5 separate regions of the Homo sapiens genome follow, and all the other regions are linked to region 5. The links come from fine-mapping of genetic effects on gene expression. A gene starts in region 5. Each other region holds a variant in brackets. All regions are shown on one strand. Distances are from middle to middle. Region 1 overlaps TMEM87B (transmembrane protein 87B). Region 2 has its middle 23 kb from the start of TMEM87B. Region 3 overlaps MERTK (MER proto-oncogene, tyrosine kinase). Region 4 overlaps MERTK (MER proto-oncogene, tyrosine kinase). Region 5 holds the start of MERTK (MER proto-oncogene, tyrosine kinase).

Region 1 (4,118 bases), 160 kb before region 5:
TGGGATTAAACTGAACTTATAGATCAATCTGGGAAGAACTGACAGTATGATGTTTGCTACAGATTTTTCATAGATGCCTTTTATCAGGTTGAGGAAGTTTCCTTCTATTTCTAACTTTCTTTGAGTTTCTATCATGAATGGGTGTTGAATTTTTTTCAAATGCTCTTTCTGTATACTTTGAGATGATCATATGGTTCATTTCTTATATTCTGTTAATATGGTGAATTACATTGAGATATTTTTTAGCACAGGCTCCACATGACTTGAATGAGACAGCAGAAGAGAGGTTGCCTTAAAAAAGCCAGATATCTGATCTCCCAAACAGCATCGACATATATCCAAGGGACCAGTCCTTAGCTTAACAAGCACTAAAATCTGGCTCTGTGAAAACACAGATTCTCATCTCACCCTTTCCCAATGGTAGATGTGTACATTAGAATGCTCAATTACTCACTTTCATGATTACCATGTAGATGTATAAATTAGAATACTCAATTACTCACTTACAATGAACAGAAACCGTAAACTGGACTAGTAATGATCAACTCTTTCCCTTCAGCATGCCTCCCTGGAGGCCCAATACGGATGAGAAGGTGGTTTGGTGAGCATGGCACCAGACCAAGGAGGCTCAGGTGGATGCTATATCCACAACTGCCAGCCCCATGTCATAGCTGTGGTCATGGTTCAAGAAAACCTCTCCCCCAACAATGCTGTTGGACATGACCAGCATTTGCCTGACTAAACCCTAGTTTTATTATGCTTTTGCTCTTAAATCCCTCATGCTGTCCCATTCTTTCTTTAGATAAGTTAATAACAACGTCTTGATTGTAGTCTACTCATATGTTGATCTCAGGCATTTGTAATGATTTTTAAAAATCAAATTCTGTTTCAGTGGCTGACGTTACTTTTTTTTCCATATAACTTTTTGTCAGCACCAGACTGAGATTCTTTTAAATCCTTTGTCTAGACTTTGAGACATGAATTCATTAAATAAACAGATGCCAAAATTTTTTTCTCTCTCACCTTGGACTTCAATTTCCTCTTACCAAGCTCTTATCACAACTGATGATTGATATTACAGAGCTGCTTGAAACCACCTCTGCTTTCTAGCTGCTGGCTAGCCTGACTTCCCTCAGGAAAGACCCATAAAAGGAAGAATTGCCCCCAACAAATGAGCAGAGCATGATCTGTTGTGTGAAAGGAAAGAGGCATGACTTTGGATCCTGTAGAAGCCAGTTTGCTCTACCCAGCAAAAAACTGCTCCTTATCCTGAGACTTTAACTCTGGCAACCAATTTTCCTAGTTAGGTTACTGGAAACAATAAGAGGAATTGGGCCACAATGAATACGATCCAATGAAAATCCAGTGAAATTCTTAAAAAACCTTGGTAGTTCTGGTATCTCAGTATTGACACAGAAAAGACAGGCCCTACCTAATGAATATTTTAACTTTTATCAACCTTAAAACTCTAATTAAAATGTTGTCCAGCAATTTTTACTTCTTACGAGGATATGTACGTTTTGAAAATTTTCAAGGCCATAAAGGGTTTATCACAATCATGACATTTCATATATTCGTAAAAGCAATTTATCTAGTTTTAAAAATCTGAGACTCAAAGTTAAATTTCACAAAAAACAAATTTTTTTTGTTCGTCTATTAGACTTTAATTATAATTTTCATAAAATGATTCACATTACATTTTCTGAAAGAAGATCAGAAAAATCCATTCTTGTGGGCCATGCACAGTGGCTCATGCCTGTAATCCCAGCACTTTGGGAGGCTGAGGTGGGTGGATCACCTGGGGTCAAGAGTTGGAGGCCAGCCTGGCCAACATGGTGAAACCCCATCTTTACTAAAAATACAAAAATTAGCTGGGCGTGGTGGCGTTCGCCTGTAATCTCAGCTACTAGGGAGGCTGAGGCAGGAGAATCACTTGAACCTGAGAGGCGGAGGTTGCAGTCATCCGAGATCTTGCCACTGCACTCCAGCCTGGGTGACAGAGAAAGACTCTGTCTCAAGAAAAAAAAAAAGAAAAATCCATTCTTGTAAATAACCAAGTGCTGACTGAAACAAAACAAAACCTTAAAATGTTAGAACTACTTAAAAACAAAACATTTGCTTAGTTTATTATATATGTTATATTCATTTACATGAATGTATTTGTTTATATTATGTTGTTTATATATATATTAGTATTTCATTATTCTTGTTTGTTTGTTTTTGAGACAGAGTCTCACTGTGTCGCCCAGGCTGGAGTGCAGTGGCGCGATCTCGGCTCACTGCAAGCTCTGCCTCCCGGGTTCAAGTGATTCTCCTGCCTCAGCCTCCCAAGTAGCTGGGACTACAGGTGCCCACCACCATGCCCAGCTAACTTTTTTTGTATTTTTAGTAGAGACGGGGTTTCACTATGTTGGCCAG[G/T]CTCGTCCTGAACTCCCGACCTTGTGATCCACCTGCCTCGGCCTCCCAAAGTGCCGGGATTACAGGCGTGAGCCATTGCGCCCAGTCTAGTATTTTATTGTTTTATTATACTTACCAGATAACTTGATATCTGTAGAGTTAAACATAGTTTTCCTAAATATCAAAGGTCCTGATTTCTAAAATGAAAAACAAACACAGGAAGATCTTGTTAGAAAGTTTTTTTTGCAACTGTTTTACCCCACAACATATAGAGTTCTAAGCCTTGCACTCCTCTCTCTGACAAGAGTATTTTTTTAACGTAAATCTGATCACATCACTAACTTGCTTAAAACCTTGTCATGGTTCTACTTCCTGCAGTTACCCTGAGGATCAGGAGGGCTCTGGCCTCTAGCAGACTCAGTTAGGGCCAGTGACACATAAGAGGTAAAAGATGCTGCCATTGCAGGATTAGTGCTGCTCAGACGTGACATGAACTGACTGCATTTGCATGTTGCTCTCCTGGCGTCAATTTGAATGTACTTTTGATAAGGAACTGTCCCCCTCTCCCAGCTCCAAGTCGTTATGGTTTACCAATGCAATTACAACAGACCGAAATTCTTACTGTAGCCTATAGGACGTGAATAATCAAGTCCTGCCCACCTCTCAACTTTCCAGTTCCAGAAAAGCATGATATTCTTTCCTGCCCTCAGGATTAGTGGTCAACCTGAAAAATTTACTTTAAAATCCTTCCTTTCACCCTTTGTTCATCTAGTTGGCTCCTTCTCACCCTTCAAAGCCCAGCTCAAAAGCCCGTTCTGCAGGAATTCTTCCACTGTGGCCCATATCCGGCCAGGCCCTCCCTTATATAATCCCTAGCACCCTTTCTTCTTCACAACCTTTCCACAATTTAAATCAAATAATTGATTAGTTGTTTAATGTCTTCTCAGGAATAAAAATCCTGCAGTTAGAGACTGTGTTAAATGTACAAATGATTAGGCATTAAAAACAAAACAAAACAAAACAAAAAACACTGATAGGACAAGTGGTAACCTCTTCCCTTCCCCAACAGAGTTTCAACAACAACAATAAAATTCCCAACTTGGATCCTTCCTTTGAGCTCCAGATCCAAATACCCAACTGCCTAAAGGACATGTCCACTGACAGATGTCCAACAGACAAACCTGTTTTAAACCAGACACACTCCTCTCTGCTCACCAACTTTTCCTACATTGTCCACCTTGGCTGGAGGTGGTACCATCTACAGTCACCCAAGCCATGGCTCCTTCCAGTTCCCCACTTCCATCACCCAATCCCCAAGGCATGCCTACTTTATCTCACAAACATTTATCAAATTTAGTTCTTCCTCTCCATCTCTGTCACCACTGCCCTAATTTAGGCCCTCTGCATTTCCTGCCTAATTTCTGCAATAGCTTAACTGGTACTTCTACCTCCAGATCTGATCCTATAATTCATCTTTAGACAGCAGCCATAGTGATTAGCATTATGTCTAAGATCTTTCAATGGCTCCCTCATTCACATCCTAAAGTAGCTACTGGGAGTCTGGAGGTCTAATCCAACCTAAAAATGGGATATACTGGGCCCACAAGAGGCCTTTTTAAAACTTTAGTTGACATAATAAAAAGATGGATTCCAGTCTCACTTAAAAAAACGAGCTGTGGCAATTCTGTGCCCACTCTGCTAGAATGTATGCAGAGTAAGCT
Region 2 (4,118 bases), 130 kb before region 5:
CTTAGCCAAAAGGCCAAGAAGTGATAAGGCCTAGACTGCCTTTCTTTGCAAGATCCCAATGCCCAGAACAGGGCCTTCCTCTCAGTGAATATTTGCAAATGGATGAGTGGGTTATAGGTGACCTCATATGATTGTTGTTCGAAAACACTTTCTTCATTAGAATGTTTAAGTGTATAGTCTCAATAAATCTATTAATTAACAGTTATCATGTCCTTAAGGAATAGAAAGAGTTAATAGATATAATTCTCTGGTTTCTCTTTCATATATCTATCCATGGAATCCCATTTAAATAAGAGAGATTGTATGTAAAAATATTCTAAAATAGTGGTCCACAGGTTACAGTTTCTAGAAGTAATTATTACATTTATTTATTTTGAGACAGGGTCTCTGTTGCCCAGGCTGAAGTGCAGTGGCATGATTATGACTCACTGCTGCCTCGACCTCTGTGGCTCAAGTGATCCTCCCACCTCAGCCTCTGAAGTTGCTGAGACTGCAGGCATGTGGCACCATGCCCAGCTAATTTTTGTGTTTTTTGTAGAGATGGGATTGCACCATGTTGCCCAGACTGGTCTTGAACTCCTGGGCTCAAGCAATCCTCCCACCTCTGCCTTCCAAAGTGCTGATATTACAGGCATGAGCCACCATGCCCAGAATTATTGCATTTAAATAACAAAAAATTAAGTAATTATATATGCCTTTTAAAGTTAAATAGAATGGGAGTTTTGCTGCTATTCTCACTTAGAGCTTTAAAAGAAAGAAAATAAAATCTAAGGATAGGAACATTGTGCATCATTGAAACATTTATTAAAGAAAACAAAACTTCCCATTTTCTCATTTGTCACTCAGTTACTAAACATCTTTAGAGAAGTTAAGTTGCTGTTGTAGCTAGTTTATTATTGGGTCAGTTACTTTCCCACGGACTCAGCAGAAGTTCCAACTTGCTTTTGCCATTGACCAGGAAAAGTTACAAAAGTCTTGACTTTCATGAATCAGAACTGGTCTGGCTAGAATCAGCCTGCTCTGTAAAAGAAGAGACTGTGGTTTGGCCCATTTCCCAGGTGGGGAACCTCTGCTAGGTCTGGCAGACATGGAGGCAGAGAGGGAATATCCCCTTCCTGGGATAGCATTCTGACCCACCACATGTCCCCAAATGCTCCTGGTAAAGCAAGCCACCATTGCTTGTCATAACCCACATATTGGGGAGAGGCGCAATGAGGCTTGTATCATCAGTAGCTAAACCCCAGGATAGACAAGAGGAAGGTAGTTCCAGCTCCTGAGCCCAGTGGCTGTTTGAGGTGAGGACTGAGGGCCTCCTCCTTCACTCTGAACTTCCCCAACTGTGCGTTTCTGGCTAAGGCGAAATACTATCTCTTTCTCTTTTCAAATTATGAATGACTGTGTTTATTTTGGAGGGAGTTGATGAAACAATCAGGGAAAATGTTTCTTTTTCTTTTTTTTTTTGAGATGGAGTCTTGCTCTGTTGCCCCATCTAGAGTGCCATGGTGTGATTACAGCCCAGTGCAGCCTTGAGCTTTGAGGCTCAAGTGATCCTCCCACCTCAGCTTCCTGAGCAGCTGGGACCACAATTGCATGCCACCATCCCTGGCTAATTTCTTTTTTATTTTTTATAGAGACAGGGTCTCCCTATGTTGCCCAGGCTGGTCTTGAACTACTAGGTTCAAGCAATCCTCTCTCCTCGGCCATCAAAAGTGTTGGGATTACAGGCGTGAGCCACCACGCCTGGCTGAAAATATTTTGAATATGACAAATGTTGCTGGGTTTGCACTGCATAAGGAATGATGCCACAAATTGAGAACAGCCTCTTGTGAGTATAATATTCTTTCGAAGACCTTGCCTCCTCCCCTTCTTACACAGGGTGTTGCAGAAAAAGGCATTGGTATGTTTACTGAACACTTGAGAAAACTGGGGCTCAAGGAAAGTCAAGTGACCTGCCCACGATTGCCCAAGGACATCTGGCAGGGTGAGCTCCTATCCAGCCCACCTCTGACCATATGGCCTGGCTCACCATGAAGAGTGCTTTGGTGTCTTTTTTTTTTTGTTTTCCAAGAGTTGCCCTGACGCTTGATTCTCATTTCTACTCATTAAGAAAAGCAACAGAAAGGAAAAAAAAAACAACACAAAAGAAAGAAAATCCTCACAAGGGAGGGCAAGTCTCAACGTGCCAGTCACGAGTGCTTCTGGCATATGTCTGTTTCCTTGTCCTTTCGACCTCCTGATCCTGAGCCCCAGCACGGTTAAGACAATTAACCCGACTTGTTTCTTCCTGTTTCCTCTCTCCCTTTTTTTTGCCTACAAGAGCCACTTACAAAAGTAATTTGAGTTTCTATGAAAGAGAATTTGAAACGCTGTTTTCAGTTTATGCTCAGAAGACAGTATGAGAGTTTGCCAATGACTGGATCATCTGAAAGTTAGTTCTTTCCAAATTTTCAAATATTCAGATGTGGCTAAGAAGAACACCAACATTCTCAG[T/C]GCGGAGATTTAAATGTGAAGAACAATGGTAGCCCAGCTTCATTCTCATTCATCACACCACTTTTAACCAACACTTGGGTGCATCACGCTGTGTGCTGAAGTGAATTTCTCTGCTACGTTTCTTGATGTCTCAAGAAAAGCCAGAAGCCACAGCTGGCTCAGCTTTCTACACTCTCCTGCGGCAGAACTGGCCCGGGCTCCCCAGCCCTGCTCAGACCACACAGAAGATACTGGACAGGATTTAGAGGGCTGTGGGGTGTTTGATGAACTATTCATTGTACATTTTTTACATTATGCTGTTAAAATTAGAAATATAAAATACAAAGTACTGTATATGAGCATAGATATTTAATATTAAGTTTATATTAAACTTCCAAATAACATTTTTCAATGTTTATAATTACTTATTTTGCTCATAGATATGAGCATACCTTTCTATTTTGGGGTGGGTTTTTTTTGTTTGAACTAGTCACCATCAGGTTCTGATCAAGACTTTAATGATCAGTTCTTCAACTTCCTGCTACTTACCATCGATAAGAAACTGTTTATACAAGTAGGTGATAAATTTTTTTATTTTTTAATGACCAAAAATTTTCAACAGTGTAAGTTATCTTTATAGGAGCTACAGCTTTTTTTCTTTCACGAATAAAATGTAATGGTGGCATTTTACAGATTCTTTTCAAACCCTCAGAACTTTTTTTTTTAATTTTTAGAGACACAGTCTCCCTCTGTCACCCAGGCTAGAGTGCAGTGGCACAATCACAGCTCATTGTAACCTCAAACTCCTGGGCTCAAGTGATCCTCCTGCCTCAGCCTCCAGAGTAGCTAGGACTACAGGCACACACCACCATTTCTGGCTAATTTTTTCTTGTAGATATAGGGTCTCACTATGTCGTCCAGGCTGGTCTTGAACTCCTGAGCTCAAGTGATCCTCCTGCCTTGCCTCCTGAAGTGTTGGGATTACAGTTGTGAATCCCCACATCTGGCCAGAACTTTTTCATATGGAGCATTTCACAGTAACAGAGGAGCCGGCTCACCCTGGAGATTGGGTGCCTGGGTGGGCAGCTGGGACCAGAACCTGGGTGAGAGCCACACTGTTGGACCCCATGTAGATTCTGATTCTTGAAGACTGTGGGAGAGGCCTAGGCGAGGCTGCTTACTGGTGGGGAGTAAACAGGCCTGAAGATGCCAGTGGCTCTGGGCCTGCTCAGCTGCCCCGAAGGCTGGGAAATCAACAATTCAACTGACTGCATAATTCTGCTGCCCTTACTAGCAGCATAAGTTAGGCTCTTCCTGCCTCAGTCTGCCCATCTGTGAAGTGGAGATAATAGTAGTACCTATCTGGTAGTGTCGTTATGAAAATTAAATGAGTGCCATGCCTGGCACAGAGTAAGAGATATATGTTTATTAAATAAAGTAAAAATGTTGAGAAGCTCTGGAGTAGATTTCTAATATGGTTTTGATCTGTGTCCCCACCCAAACTTCTTGTTCAGTTGTAATCTCCAGCGTTGAAGGTGGGGTCTGGAGGGAGGTGATTGGATCATGGGGGTGGATTTCTCATGAATGATTTGGTATCTGCCCCTTGGTGCTGTTCTCGTGATACCGAGTGAGTTCTTGTGAGATCTGGT
Region 3 (4,118 bases), 62 kb before region 5:
GCCTTCCAAGTAGTTGGGATTACAGGCACCTGCCACCATGCCCGGCTAATTCTGTATTTTTAGTAGAGACGGGGTATCACCATGTTGTCCAGGCTGGTCCTGAACTCCCGACCTCAGGTGATCCACCTGCCTTGGCCTCCTAAAACGCTAGGATTACAGGTGTGAGCCACCACACCCGACCTGAATGGTTATTTTTTAGAATTACAACTATACAAGTATTTACTATGTAGTTGAATCTGGAAACTTCTATATCTGTGGCACACAGAAACATCATCTGACATACAGTAGTATCTTCATAAAATTGTTGAAAATATGCCACCATTTGCTTCTTGGCAGAAAAGCTTATTTTGTGTCTTCTGTCTACATGTGTAGGAAATTTTCCATCAGATATTTTTAAACTCAAAGCTTATCACTAATAACAGTAATAAAATATTTGAAGAATGAAAGGGAAAAAAACTTGCTGAGGGAAGCACAGCAGGCATCAGCCTAGAAAAGCTGTTCCTGGTCGGATGTCTGCATGGCCACGACTGCGCCCCGGCTGCAGCCAAGTGGTCACTACATGGCAGAGAGCTGTGACTGAGAGACGCTGTAGAAAAAATGCATGTCTGATCCTTTTTATATTAGTGCTTCTCCTGAGGGGTTAAATGTGCATAAAAAAGAAAATCAGTGCTGGTGGGTTTTTGTTATTTTCCATCTAGATGGAAGGTTGTCACCAGTGTCTGCGTTTCCCTGACTACACACGGGTCCCTCAGGGAAAAGCAAACCCATACATCTCTGTCCTATGATTCGGTGGTAACCTTTCATTTCTTCAAAAATAACATGGTATTATGGAGAGGATTTGACTGCTACTTCACAGTATCTTAATTTTCAAAGACGAGGAATACTTCCCTCAGATGGGAGGAAACCCTAAGCTGGATTGCTTAATTAAATTCTCTTGAAAATTTAAAACGCCGGCCGGGTGCGGTGGCTCATGCCTGTAATCCCAGCACTTTGGGAGGCTGAGGCGGGCGGAGGTCAGGAGATTGAGGCCATCCTGGATAACACTGTGAAACGCTGTCTCTACTAAAAATACAAAAAAATTAGCCGGGCGTTGTGGCGGGCGCCTGTAGTCCCAGCTACTCGGGAAGCTGAGGCAGGAGAATGGCTGAACCTGGGAGGCGGAGCTTGCAGTGAGCCGAGATCACACCACTGCACTCCAGCCTGGGCGACAGAGCAAGACTCCATCTCAAAAAAAAAAAAAAAAAAAAAAAGAAAGAAAATTTAAAGTGCTAAGAAACAAAAACTCCTGGTAGAAGCCATCTACTTTCATATTTTGGTCACTTCTTCTCAAGTGAGGCATGAAACTGCTACTAGTTTGTGTAGTGAATTAGAAAATATTTATTGCACTGAGGAGGAATATTTCTCTCACACCCATTACACACACATCTATAAAAGGATCCCTGTGATACTCTGCCTCGGGGTCTTTATATCTTCTGCTTGTATTACTCCTAGAGAATTTTGAAAAATATACGTGGACTCTGACACATTTTGAAGTTTGCATCCTTAAATTTTTCGTAATTTAAACATCTTCAAAAAATGTAATTTGAGGTACCTTGAATATCTTGACACCAACACCCACTGTAACGACTCTTCCCCAGCAGCAAGTTTTCCACCATGACTCTTCTACCAGCCCCAAGAATTTCATCTTAATGGTACACATTTGAAAGTTTTTGCTTAAACCATGGGAACTTATTGGCAACAAAAACATATATATACCTTGAAATTGCAAAAATATTTTCTTCTGAATTGATTATACTCATTATTAGGATGCAATTAATCAAAACAATGTAAGTGATTCTTAAACATAAGTACAACTTTATTGGAAGAGCAATTTCTTTGCTGGACAAAATTTGGAATTTTCTTTTCTTTTTTTTTTTTTTTTTTTT[TG/G]AGACTGAGACTCGCTCTGTCACTCAGGCTGGAGGGCAATGGCATGATCTTGGCTCACTGCAACCTCCGCCTCCCAGGTTCAAGCGATTCTCCTGCCTCAGTCTCCCAAGTAGCTGGGATTACAGGCATGCACCACCACGCCCGGTTAATTTTTGTATTTTTAATGGAGACAGGGTTTTACCATGTTGGCCAGGCTGGTCTTGAACTCCTGACCTCAGGTGATCCACCTGCCTCAGCCTCCCAAAGTGCTGGGATTACAGGCGTGAGCCACCACGTCCAGCCAAAATTTGGAATTTTCTGTCTCTGGAAATTTCTTAACCCCAAGACAATGCACCACAGCAACCATTCTCAAAATATGGTCAAGAGACTTCTGGGGATTCCAGAGACCCCTTCTGTAGTCCTCAGAGTCAAAACTATTTTCATAATAATAATATATTGTTTGCTCTTTTAATTCTCATTATCTCAGGAATATATGATGGAATTTTCCAAAAGAATTTCCCAGAGGCTATATGATATATGATGATGCCATAGCATAGATGTATTAGCCAATGAAGTGTATGCTTGTGTATTTTTGTGTTTTAAAAGTTTTCAGTTTTAATTTCTAATTCAGTAAATATAGATAGATATGACCCACATAAACAAGAACTCTGGTTCTTGATAACTTATGACTGTAAAAGGATCTTGAGGCCAAGCACAGTGGGCTCACTCCTGTAATCCCAGCACTACAGGAGGCTGAGGCAGGAGGATTGCTTGAGTCCAGAAGTTCGAGAGTTCAAGTCCAGAAGTTGCCCCACCCTGGGGCAACATGGTGAAACCCCATCTCTACAAAAAACACAAAAATTAGCTGAGCATGGTGACATGCACCTGTATTCCCAGCTACTTGGCAGGTTGAGATGGCTGAATCACCTGAGCCTAGGAGGTTGAGGCTACAGTGAGCACTCCAGGCTGGGCGACAGAGTCAGGCTCTGTCACACACACACAAAAACAAACAAACAAAAAACCAAAAAGAAACAAACAAACAAACAAACGAAGGATCTTGAGACCAAAGCATTGAGAACTGATGCTTCATAGTGGTGATTCCAGACAAGCAAGAGAGGTCTTTTTTCTTTTGTAATGCAAGGAAGAGATGAAAGGAAAATAGGGAGGTGGAAAGGGAGAACTGGCGAAGTAACTGGACTTTGGGCACGTTGTCAAGCATTGATTTTAAGAAAGAAGATACATATAGGATGAGGATGGAGACACTGATCCCACTAAGGGGTCCATGCTCTGCTGATCACTGTTTCACAGTGAGGCCTTTAACACTTTGATTTTCATGCCTTGGCATCACTTTTAACCTTCCAGATCCTAAGCTCCCAAGTGATATGCCCATTTCAACCACCAGGCTGCATGAACTTGCAAAACCTGGCTTATATTTAGAAAAATTGGCCTTGGCTCAATCAGAAGATACAGGGAGTTACTAACTTACCTTTTTTATATATTGGAGGAGACATTGGCAGTTTAAAATTAGTCATTTGACTTCAATTATTATCAAAACTCTTAGGAAACCCTTGAATACAAACTACAAAATTACATTCCAAACTTGTCATAAGGGGAAGAGCCAGCCCTGTGGTAAAACCGGAGGTTTATTTCACTGAGATCCATTATCCAGTTATAGAACCTATAGTAGGATCCTATAGTAGCAGATTTCAGGCCCAGTGATCTTTAGTCCTAACAGGTTTATTAATGCTGAAAGGGAAACATTATCACAGAACATGACTTCAGGTCAAATGGACAGTCATTTCTCCTGTGTGTTTCTTTTCATAGTGCACCCAAGGTCAAAAAAACAATCTATAGCAAATGTCCTAGCACAAGACACCTACACCAAGTCTGAATTGCCTGGCAGTAACCACACAATGTATTAAAACAGTGTACAAGGTCAGGTGGTTGGTGCCCATAGGCCAAAGAGATACCAGTAGAGAGAAGAGGAAACTAGTTCAAACCAAAGGTAAATTTCTCCAAAACCAGACAGCACTTAGGGCCAAATATAGTCTTCTTTGCTTAATTTTTCAGCTAAACTTTAATGGCTTAATGGCACTGGCTTCCCAACTAGACACTCGTTTATAAGCCTGGATTGACCATAGCAATGAGTGTACACTAGGAGAAGACAGCTCCCTCTCACTCGCCAGTTCTCTCTGTGTGGATGAACAGTAACT
Region 4 (4,118 bases), 23 kb before region 5:
TTTTCATTGTTTCTATTACTTTGGTTGTATAACGTATCTTTTCCCCCTGTTTTTCCCCCACAGAAGTGGAATACTCTCAAAATTATTTTTGGGTAGTGATTGCAGATGAATTCAGACTGAAAGGCTTACCCACATCAAAGACTTAATGCAAATGTGGTCCTTTCTACACAGCACATGGAAAAGTGGGGTGCCTCTGGTTGTAATTTGGGTGGAATTCACAAGAAATCTCCACCTTATCCCTCCCACCTTCTTCCAGGATTGCTTCCTCATGTGGACTGGATAAACAGCTGGAGTGGAATTTTAACTTCACATAAACGAGTGCTGCTAAGCTGCCTTGGATCACTAGCCTCCCACTCAGGTCCCAGAGTAGCCGCCCAGCTGCTCCAGCAGCTGCATTTACCAACTCCAGGGGCCACTCCATCCAGTCCTGGACTTGTGTGGTGCAGCACCCCTGCACTGTGCCCATGTGTTTCCAATCACCATGCAGCCCTTGACCAGAGCCCTAGCGTCCGCTTCTTAAAGTCAGGGCTTTTGTCTCCATCATCTTTCTTCAGCACCCAGTACAGGACAGGCCCAAGGGACCTGATTAGTGAATGTTTATTCACATACTGCCCATTTTTCTGTGTGAGTTTGCCCTGTTTTTCTGAACATACTTGTCTGTAACTTCCTTGAAGGCTGGAGGTGGCATCATCTGAACCCATCATGATGATTGGCATGGAGTCACATGCAGCAAACATTTACAGAATAAACGGGTGTGACGTGCAGAGGTCCTGAAGGGTGAGCAGGGAAGAGAGGTGGTCCAGGCAAGGACACTGCTGTGGCTGGAGACAGAACTTGGAGAGGCTGTCAGCATGCCTATGACACACAATTACAGTGGCTCAGACATTTAGGGACTTTGTGAATAGTCTCTTAGACTCAAAATTCGTTCATTAGGGCAAGCCAGTAAAGAATGTTATTTTCCATGTGATCAACTAGTGCATCCTACCCTCAAATCCATGAATCCTTGCTGAGCACTTGTCAAATGCAGTGTGCAAAGGCAGAAGGGCTGGTGGGCAGTGCTGCTCAGAGGTTAGCTAGCAGCTTTGCAGTCAGAGGGCTGAGGCCCACCCAGTCCCTCACCACCTCAAGGTATGGCCTCAGGAAAGCTCTATAACTTCTTTGAACTCTTGTGAGGACAAGAGGATCTCAGCAGTAGGAGCTGATAGGCATCGAGTCCACCAGCACACTCCAAAAATATTGGCTGACATGGCTGTTACTGGCTTGCATCTGAACCCTGGCCTGCTGGCCACCTAAAGTAGGAATTTCTAAAGCCAGGTCTGGGCCCTGCGGGGATAAGGGCTGAGTTTAATTAGTGATGTCTGCCTTGGACAATGCATGGGGAAGGGCAATACTAGAGTAATATAATTGCCAGCCATGAGTGAGAGGAAAAAATATACATCGGGCTTGGGATGCGAAGGGCTCTTAGCTCTAAGGCATCTCTCAATCTCTCCAGGGATGGTCTCCACCAGCCTTTCCTAACATGAGCTCCTTTGATTTTCTTGAAGCTTGGTGATCACAGCCCAAGGTGATCACCGAGGTGACTAAAGAAAGCAGCAGCAACTGAAATTGCAGGTCCCATGATAGTGGGTGGGGATGTGGCAGCAAGCAGCCTCCCTGGCCCTGGAGTCCCTCCATGCTGTGGGAAGAGGGTTGAGCAGGGCAGGTGGCAGCCCTGTGGGACTGAGGGTGCTGGCTGGTGAACCCTGTTCAGTTCCACCCCACCCCAGCTACCCCAGGATGCTGTGTGCCATCAGCCTGCTTTATGATCCCAGGCACCTGGGAAGAGAGAGGAATAGCTCCTCTACCAGAGTTACAGTAATGGCAGGAGTGAGTGCCAGCCTGTGGGACCCATTACTCCTGCTCTTTCTATTCCTTCCCCAACAATAAAATGGGCAGAAGCATCAGCTGAGCTCTCTAAAGTTCAGCCTCAAACTCAAGAGGCCCAGGCTAGGCGTGGTGGCTCCCAGCACTTTGGGAGGCCGAAGCGGGAGGATTGCTTGAGCCCAGGAGTTCAAGATCAGCCTGGGCAACAGAGTGAGACAAGTCTCTACCAAAAATAGAAATAAAAGAAAAACGAGGCCCAGAGGAGGCTGCAAA[A/C]GAGTGAGGGCTTATCTTTCAGTTCCTAGAGGTTCTTTGCTTCCCAACTCAAGCACACATGAACATATGGCACATAAATGCATGGCCAAGAGGATGCACCTTATTCCAGAGGTATGCTGTTTCCTCACCAGTCTTGCTGTCTGCTGAAGGTATTTGCTATCAAACAGCCCTACAGCCCTTCTGCAGGTGGGTTTGTGATTTAGAGAAAGGCTTTTTTTTTTTTTTTGAGATCGCGTCTTAGTCTGTCACAGCCCAGGCTGGAGTGCAGTGGTGTGATCTCAGCTCACTGCAAACCTCGCCTCCAGGGTTCAAGCAATTCTCCTGCCTCAGCCTCCTGAGTAGCAGGGACTACAGGCAGGTACCACCATGCCCAGCTAATTTTTGTATTTTTAGTAAAGACCGAGTTTCACCATGTTGGTCAGGCTGGTGTCGAACTCCTAACCTCAGGTGATCTGCCCGCCTTCACCTCCCAAAGTTCAGAGAAAGGCTTTTGCATCTGGAATCCTGTAAATGCTGGTATCCCTGTTTCCCTACCCTCTCTAGGAGAAAACGCAGAACCTAGACCAGTGCCCCCACCCCACATTCTGTGTGCACACACCAGGCTGATATTTGAATCATGTCCTGAGCAGCTGCCCTGTCACCCAGGTTAAGGACTCCCACCCCACTCCCTTTACCCCCACAGCTAGCTGAGGCCAAACATAGCACAAAAGGAAATTTTCTACTTAGTACTATTTATGCAATACCCAAAGGATTCCTGATTGATAAAGTGTAGTGGCCAGTCGCAGTGGCTCACGCCTGTAATCCCAGCACTTTGGGAGGCCGAGGCGGGCAGATCACCTGAGGTCAGGAGTTCAAGACCAGCCTGGCCAACATGGCAAAACCCTGTCTCTACTAAAAAATACAAAAAGTAGCCAGGCCTGGTGGCAGGCGCCTGTAATCCCAGCTACTCGGGAGGGTGAGGCAGGGAGAATTGCTTGAACCCGGGAGGCAGAAGTTGCAGTGAGCTGAGATCACGCCACTGCACTCCAGCGTAGGCAACACAGTGAGACTCTGTTTCGGAAAATAAATAAATAAATAAATAAAATAAAGAGTAGCAACACTTCATTAGAAGAAAAACAAACAAACAGAGTAGCAACACTTCATTAGAAGAAAAAGAAAAAAAAAAAACAACCTTCAATCAGAACTCACTTGACCTGATGGATCAGTCCTAAATTGCAAATGGTAATTATTAACTTCACTGGAGTGACCCTTGGGCCACTTGGAGAATGTTAAAGGAGGAAGAGGCGATCACGCCACCCATTTGCCCTAAGTGTAGCAAAGCCCTGCAAGAGAAAGCGGGTGGCTGGCTCTGAGTCAGTGCTGGAGAGAACAGGCCTGGCGCTTGCAGGAAGGAAAGGAAGTAAATGGCTGGGCAGTGTGTGCCCCAAGAGGTCACAGCCCAGCCACAGGAGGAGAAAAGCCCAAGTGCCAGTGAAAGCCCAGAAATGCCTGCACGGTGGAAGGAACGTGAAGTTGCCTGTAAAACACGGTGTTGGCATTGGGTTGCCAGATAAAAAACAGTACAGCCCTTTACACCTGAATTTCAGATAAGCAACCAATATGGGAACACCCCGGATTTACTTAGAGGAACAAATATAACTTAGTATCATTTAGTCAAAACCAGCTGGAGCCACAGCACTAGGGATTTCATTGTTGCCCTTCCCACAGGCTGCTTCTTGGGGCTTAGAGCAGCATGGAGAGTGGGTCTGGAGGGGCAAACAGGGACCTGGCACACCAGGAAAGCTATCCAACCTCTCTGAACCAAGGCTTGCAGCATGAAGGGGCTGAGACATCTGAGCAAAAGCACAAGGGGCTTGCTTATCAGTGGGGTGACCTTCCTACTGCCCCTGGCCCAATACATTCCTTTTGGCTCAAAAAAAAAAAAAAAAAGAAAAGAAAAAGAAAAAACATCAAAAAACAAAATGAGCAGAGGTACCTCTCTG
Region 5 (4,118 bases):
ACACAAAACTATTGTTCCCATTACTTTCTCCATAGTTCTCACCACATTCACTACCTCCAAGACTATTCACGGCCAGTCCTCACTAGTAGCAACAAATAACAGATTTGCAGCAGATTATGAAAAATGGGGCTGGCAGAAATGCTGAGGAATTTTTGAAGGTTTGGTGGAGGGAGGGGCAGTGGAGAACAGAACTGCTTTAGTTCTTTGCCTGGCTCTTAAAGTTTGTTTCAAATTGCTATGTTGCCCCAAATTATAAATTGCTTATGTAATTTAACGTGCAAAAAGTGGGTGCACTGTTTAAGAATTTTTCATTTGAGTAAATGAGCTTTCAAAGGAAAATCTCAAAGGAAAAACTTTTAAGTAACTTACTTGACTATAAACTGAGCTTTCCAGGTATTCCTAAAAAACATCTTTGACTGTAATAGGTGAAGGCTAGTCAAGTGCATTCTCGATCAAAAGAGAGAAAATCTACATGCTGAATGGAAATAGAAACCTTTTAGCTGAGAGAAAATACTTGGAATGTGTTTATTTAGCATTTTTCCCCTTTCTTTTTCTTTTGGGTAAAGCCTGGTAAGTTTATTCCAGCCTCCTCAAGAAGTGCATCAGCGATCAAACTTGAAATCTGTTCATCACTCACTCCCCAAATAAGCTGTTCAAGCAGAATGAAACCGGCCTTCCTTGCCTCCACGTATCAGTCCAGCATCTTGTATTAAAATGCCTGGAACAAGCCGGGCGCGGTGGCTCACGACTGTAATCCCAGAACTTTGGGAGGCCAAGGAGAGCAGATCACGAGGTCAAGAGATCGAGACCATCCTGGCCAACATGGTGAAACCCCGTCTCTACTAAAAATACAAAAATTAGCCGGACGTGGTAGCGCGCGTCTATAGTCTCAGCTACTCGGGAGGCTGAGGCAGGAGAATCGCTTGAACCCGGGAGGCGGAGCCTGCAGTGAGCCGAGATCGCGCCGCGGCACTCCAGCCTGGGCGACAGGGCGAGACTCGGTCTCAAATTAAAAAAAAAAAAGCCTGTAACAACACTTCGCTGAATCCAGATAAACGTAAACGCTGCCGAGCACTGTAAGTTCTGTTCTGCCATAACAGGAGTGAAAAGAACGCTCCCCTTTTCCCACACTCTCTGGGTGCCCCTAAAAAGGGATACTAATAATGCCCGTAAGGGCCCATTGGGAGCAGCCAGGACTGCCGTCCCCCCCTGGCCCGTCGCTCGGCCTCAGTCTATCGCGGCTCCCGGACTGCGGCTCCGACTCCCGCAGCCCGTTCGTTCGCCCCGCGCCGGTCCCTCGGGAGACCGGATCTGTGGCCCCCGGGACTCCGGCCAGAGCGGGGCCCCACCATGCAACTCTAGTGGAAAGTTCTCGTCGCATCCCAGACCAGACCTGCTACCTACGTTCCACTCGTCGGAACTTCAGGACTTGCAGCGCGCCCGGCCGAGCTCGATTTCCTCCTCTGCGGTGAAGAGGGGAGCCTGCAACGCCGACCCCGACCCGGCTTCACCACGATGCGCACCCGCAAGCCAGGCTGGGTGCCCTCGGGACGCTTGAGGCGCCGCGGTCAGTGGACGGTAGGTTCGCCTACGCCCCCTCCTCTGGCACCGCAGTGGGTGGAGGGTGTTTGCAAACTTGTCCAGCAGCCAGGCGCGCCCCTGTGGACGCGCTCCCTCCCCAGAGGCCCCTGCTTCCTCCTGGGAGCCCCCACCCCCTCGCCTGGCCCCCAGCCGGGCGCACTCACCTCTACGCCAGAGCGCGGGGAGGAAGAGGCCCAGCAGCAGCGGCAGCGGGGCCGGCCCCATCCCGGGGCTGCGGATCTGTAATTTCTCTCCGGACGGATGGACAGATGGACGTCCCGAACCTGTCCTGTCGCCGGCCAAGCGCGCCAGCGAAGCTCCCTGTCCGGGCGGCCCGGGCAGTGAGTGCCGAGTGGCGGAGCCAAGCGGCCGGCGGGAGGTGCCGAGGGCTGGAAGGGGCGGGCCGGGGGCCGAGCCGAGGCCGGCCGGGGCTGGAGGAGAGGAGCGGGCAGGGGGGCGAGTCCCGGCGGGCCCAGCAGGTTGGGGTGGGAGGGGGCGGGAGGACGAGGGGGAGGAGGGGCGTAAAGGGGAAAGGGAGGGGGTTGGAGAGAAGGGGCGGGCCGAAGGCCGCCGCTGGGCAGACGGCGGGGAAGGGGGCGGAGAGGAAGGGGAGGGGGCTGAGAGACCCGGAGGGAGCCGGAAAGAGAAGTGAAGGGGAGGGGTGGACTGGAGGTCCACAGCGGAAGGCTCTGGCCGCTGCGCGGGTCCGGGGCCCCACACGTGTGGGTGGGAGATGGGGAAGGACAGAAGGTGGGAGAGGAGTAGAGGATGCCCGAGGCAGCCCCCAGACCCAAGAGGAGGGTCCAGAGGCGCCCCCGCATTCCGGGCTTGGCTGACACAGAAAACCCTGGCCGCGCCGCTCCCAGAGGCCAAGGCCAGGGCGGCAGCGCTCCCTGCCGAGCGCTCCTCCACATCCATTCCGCTCGCCGCCGAGCGCCGCCTGGGTACCCGGCCCGAGGTGCGCGACACGGCCCTGGCGGCGAGGAGCTCACCTCCCCAGGGGGAGGGGTTCCTGGGAAAGGACGCTTTGCCGTGGCTCCGTGACGAGCCAGAGAGAGGTGACACTCAAGGAGGGAGATGAACGTGAATGACAAAGTGCAGAGCAGGAGTGGGGAGAGGGGGAACCACAGCACGTCACTCTCATGGGCCTCCACAAGGTGTGCAGGGTCCAAGAGGCAGTAGCAGAGAGTGAGTCGTAAGAGAAATGTAACTACTTACGCTAATAATGGCAACAGTAACTTAATTTATATACGTAGTTTCTTAAAGGTAACACTTTTAGAATGAATGTATTTTAATGTGGTCCCTTTAACAACATAACATAAGCCAAATCATGTCCCTCTCCTCAAATCTCCCTAAACCTATCAGTGGTTCCTGCTGTCTCTGCGTACGTAAGCCAAGGTTCTGCAGTGGTCTACGAGGTTCTACGTGACCTGGTCCCCTTTCCTCTTTGGCCTCATCTCCTTACGCCTCTTCAATTTACGTTGGTCTCGTCAAGCGGTCCCTTGACCCCTACACTGGCTGGACACTTCCCGTAGATTTGGCTACGGGAAGGAGACAGGCAGCCCAGATGGGTTTAGACAGGTTATTACTTACACCGACAGCAAAAGCAAAATCAGTGTGGTGTCAGCTCCATGCATCCTTAGGCCTACAAGATAACACCAAACTGGAAGGGTCAGTGTTATCCTATGGGTCTACATAATTTAACAAAAATAAATAAATAAATAAATAAATAAATAAGACAACATGAGCCCTGCCGCTGAGTAGCCAAGTCTAAATTACACCAAGCAGTTTTATAGACTTCACAGGAGCCTGCCGCTGTATGCTTGGAGGGAAGCGGGCTGGGCGGTGGAGGGAGGGATATGGAAAGTCCTGCAGTCAACTGAAACGTTGGAGAAGGAAGAGAAATGGCCTTGCAGCAGTCTCCCATGGGGTAGGGATAGGAAACTGCCTACCAGTGGCTCCTCACCAGGCTTACCCATCCCTGCTTTAGGGGAAATCACAGGGCAGTCCAACAAGACTTGGGTCAGACCGTGGTCATACCTTGCCTACATGGCCTCGAGAGATGTGCAAGATTGCCAAGGACACCTCGGCAGAGCTGTTCTCCTGCAATTTCCTTGCTATTGCTCACATATACCAAGCACTCCTCCGCCCAAAGGTTTGCACTGGCTGTTCTCTCTGCCTGAAATGCTCTTCCCCTAGACACACAGCTTCCCAGTTGGCTCTCCTCCAAGTCAGCTCAAATCTCACTTTCTTGTTGAGGCCTGCCTTGTACAATACTCTTCAGCTATCTACCGGTGTTTGATATACCACCCCAAACATAGTGGGAGTAAAATGTCAGCCATTTTATTAGATTCCTGAATTCTGTGGATCGGAGGTTTGGACAGAGCACAGGGGAAATAGGTTGTCCTTGCTCCTCCATATCTGCCTGGGACCTTAGGCTCAAATGGTTGGGGATTAGAATCATGTAAAGTAAATTATAACCTGCAGGCCTATGGCTTCTTTTTGCAAATAATCGTTATCGAAACACAGTCATTCAT

The links. PIP is the estimated chance that this variant, and not a neighbour inherited with it, causes the effect.
Region 1: its variant is the best candidate, but not a certain one, in a credible set for the expression of MERTK in whole blood (INTERVAL, PIP 0.63).
Region 2: its variant is the best candidate, but not a certain one, in a credible set for the expression of MERTK in fibroblasts (GTEx, PIP 0.86).
Region 3: its variant is the best candidate, but not a certain one, in a credible set for the expression of MERTK in monocytes (Fairfax 2014, PIP 0.83).
Region 4: its variant is the best candidate, but not a certain one, in a credible set for the expression of MERTK in left ventricle (GTEx, PIP 0.77).

What each region holds. Positions count from the first base shown.
Region 1 is chr2:112,058,453-112,062,570 of GRCh38, reverse strand. TMEM87B (transmembrane protein 87B) reads right to left here. Exons shown (of 19, transcript NM_032824.3): 2 at 2,534-2,594. Among named protein-coding and RNA genes, the nearest start is that of TMEM87B, 5.2 kb to the right of the region's middle. RefSeq lists a silencer at 1,783-1,997. The variant G/T (reference allele first, on the strand shown) is at 2,419.
Region 2 is chr2:112,030,177-112,034,294 of GRCh38, reverse strand. No RefSeq gene overlaps it. Among named protein-coding and RNA genes, the nearest start is that of TMEM87B, 23 kb to the left of the region's middle. The variant T/C (reference allele first, on the strand shown) is at 2,491.
Region 3 is chr2:111,958,289-111,962,406 of GRCh38, reverse strand. The region is part of intron 4 of MERTK (MER proto-oncogene, tyrosine kinase); the gene reads right to left. Among named protein-coding and RNA genes, the nearest start is that of MERTK, 62 kb to the right of the region's middle. The variant TG/G (reference allele first, on the strand shown) is at 1,926.
Region 4 is chr2:111,919,747-111,923,864 of GRCh38, reverse strand. The region is part of intron 1 of MERTK (MER proto-oncogene, tyrosine kinase); the gene reads right to left. Among named protein-coding and RNA genes, the nearest start is that of MERTK, 23 kb to the right of the region's middle. The variant A/C (reference allele first, on the strand shown) is at 2,137.
Region 5 is chr2:111,896,424-111,900,541 of GRCh38, reverse strand. It overlaps MERTK (MER proto-oncogene, tyrosine kinase), which reads right to left and starts at 1,935. Exons shown (of 19, transcript NM_006343.3): 1 at 1,746-1,935. The coding sequence starts at 1,806. RefSeq lists an enhancer at 2,467-2,796.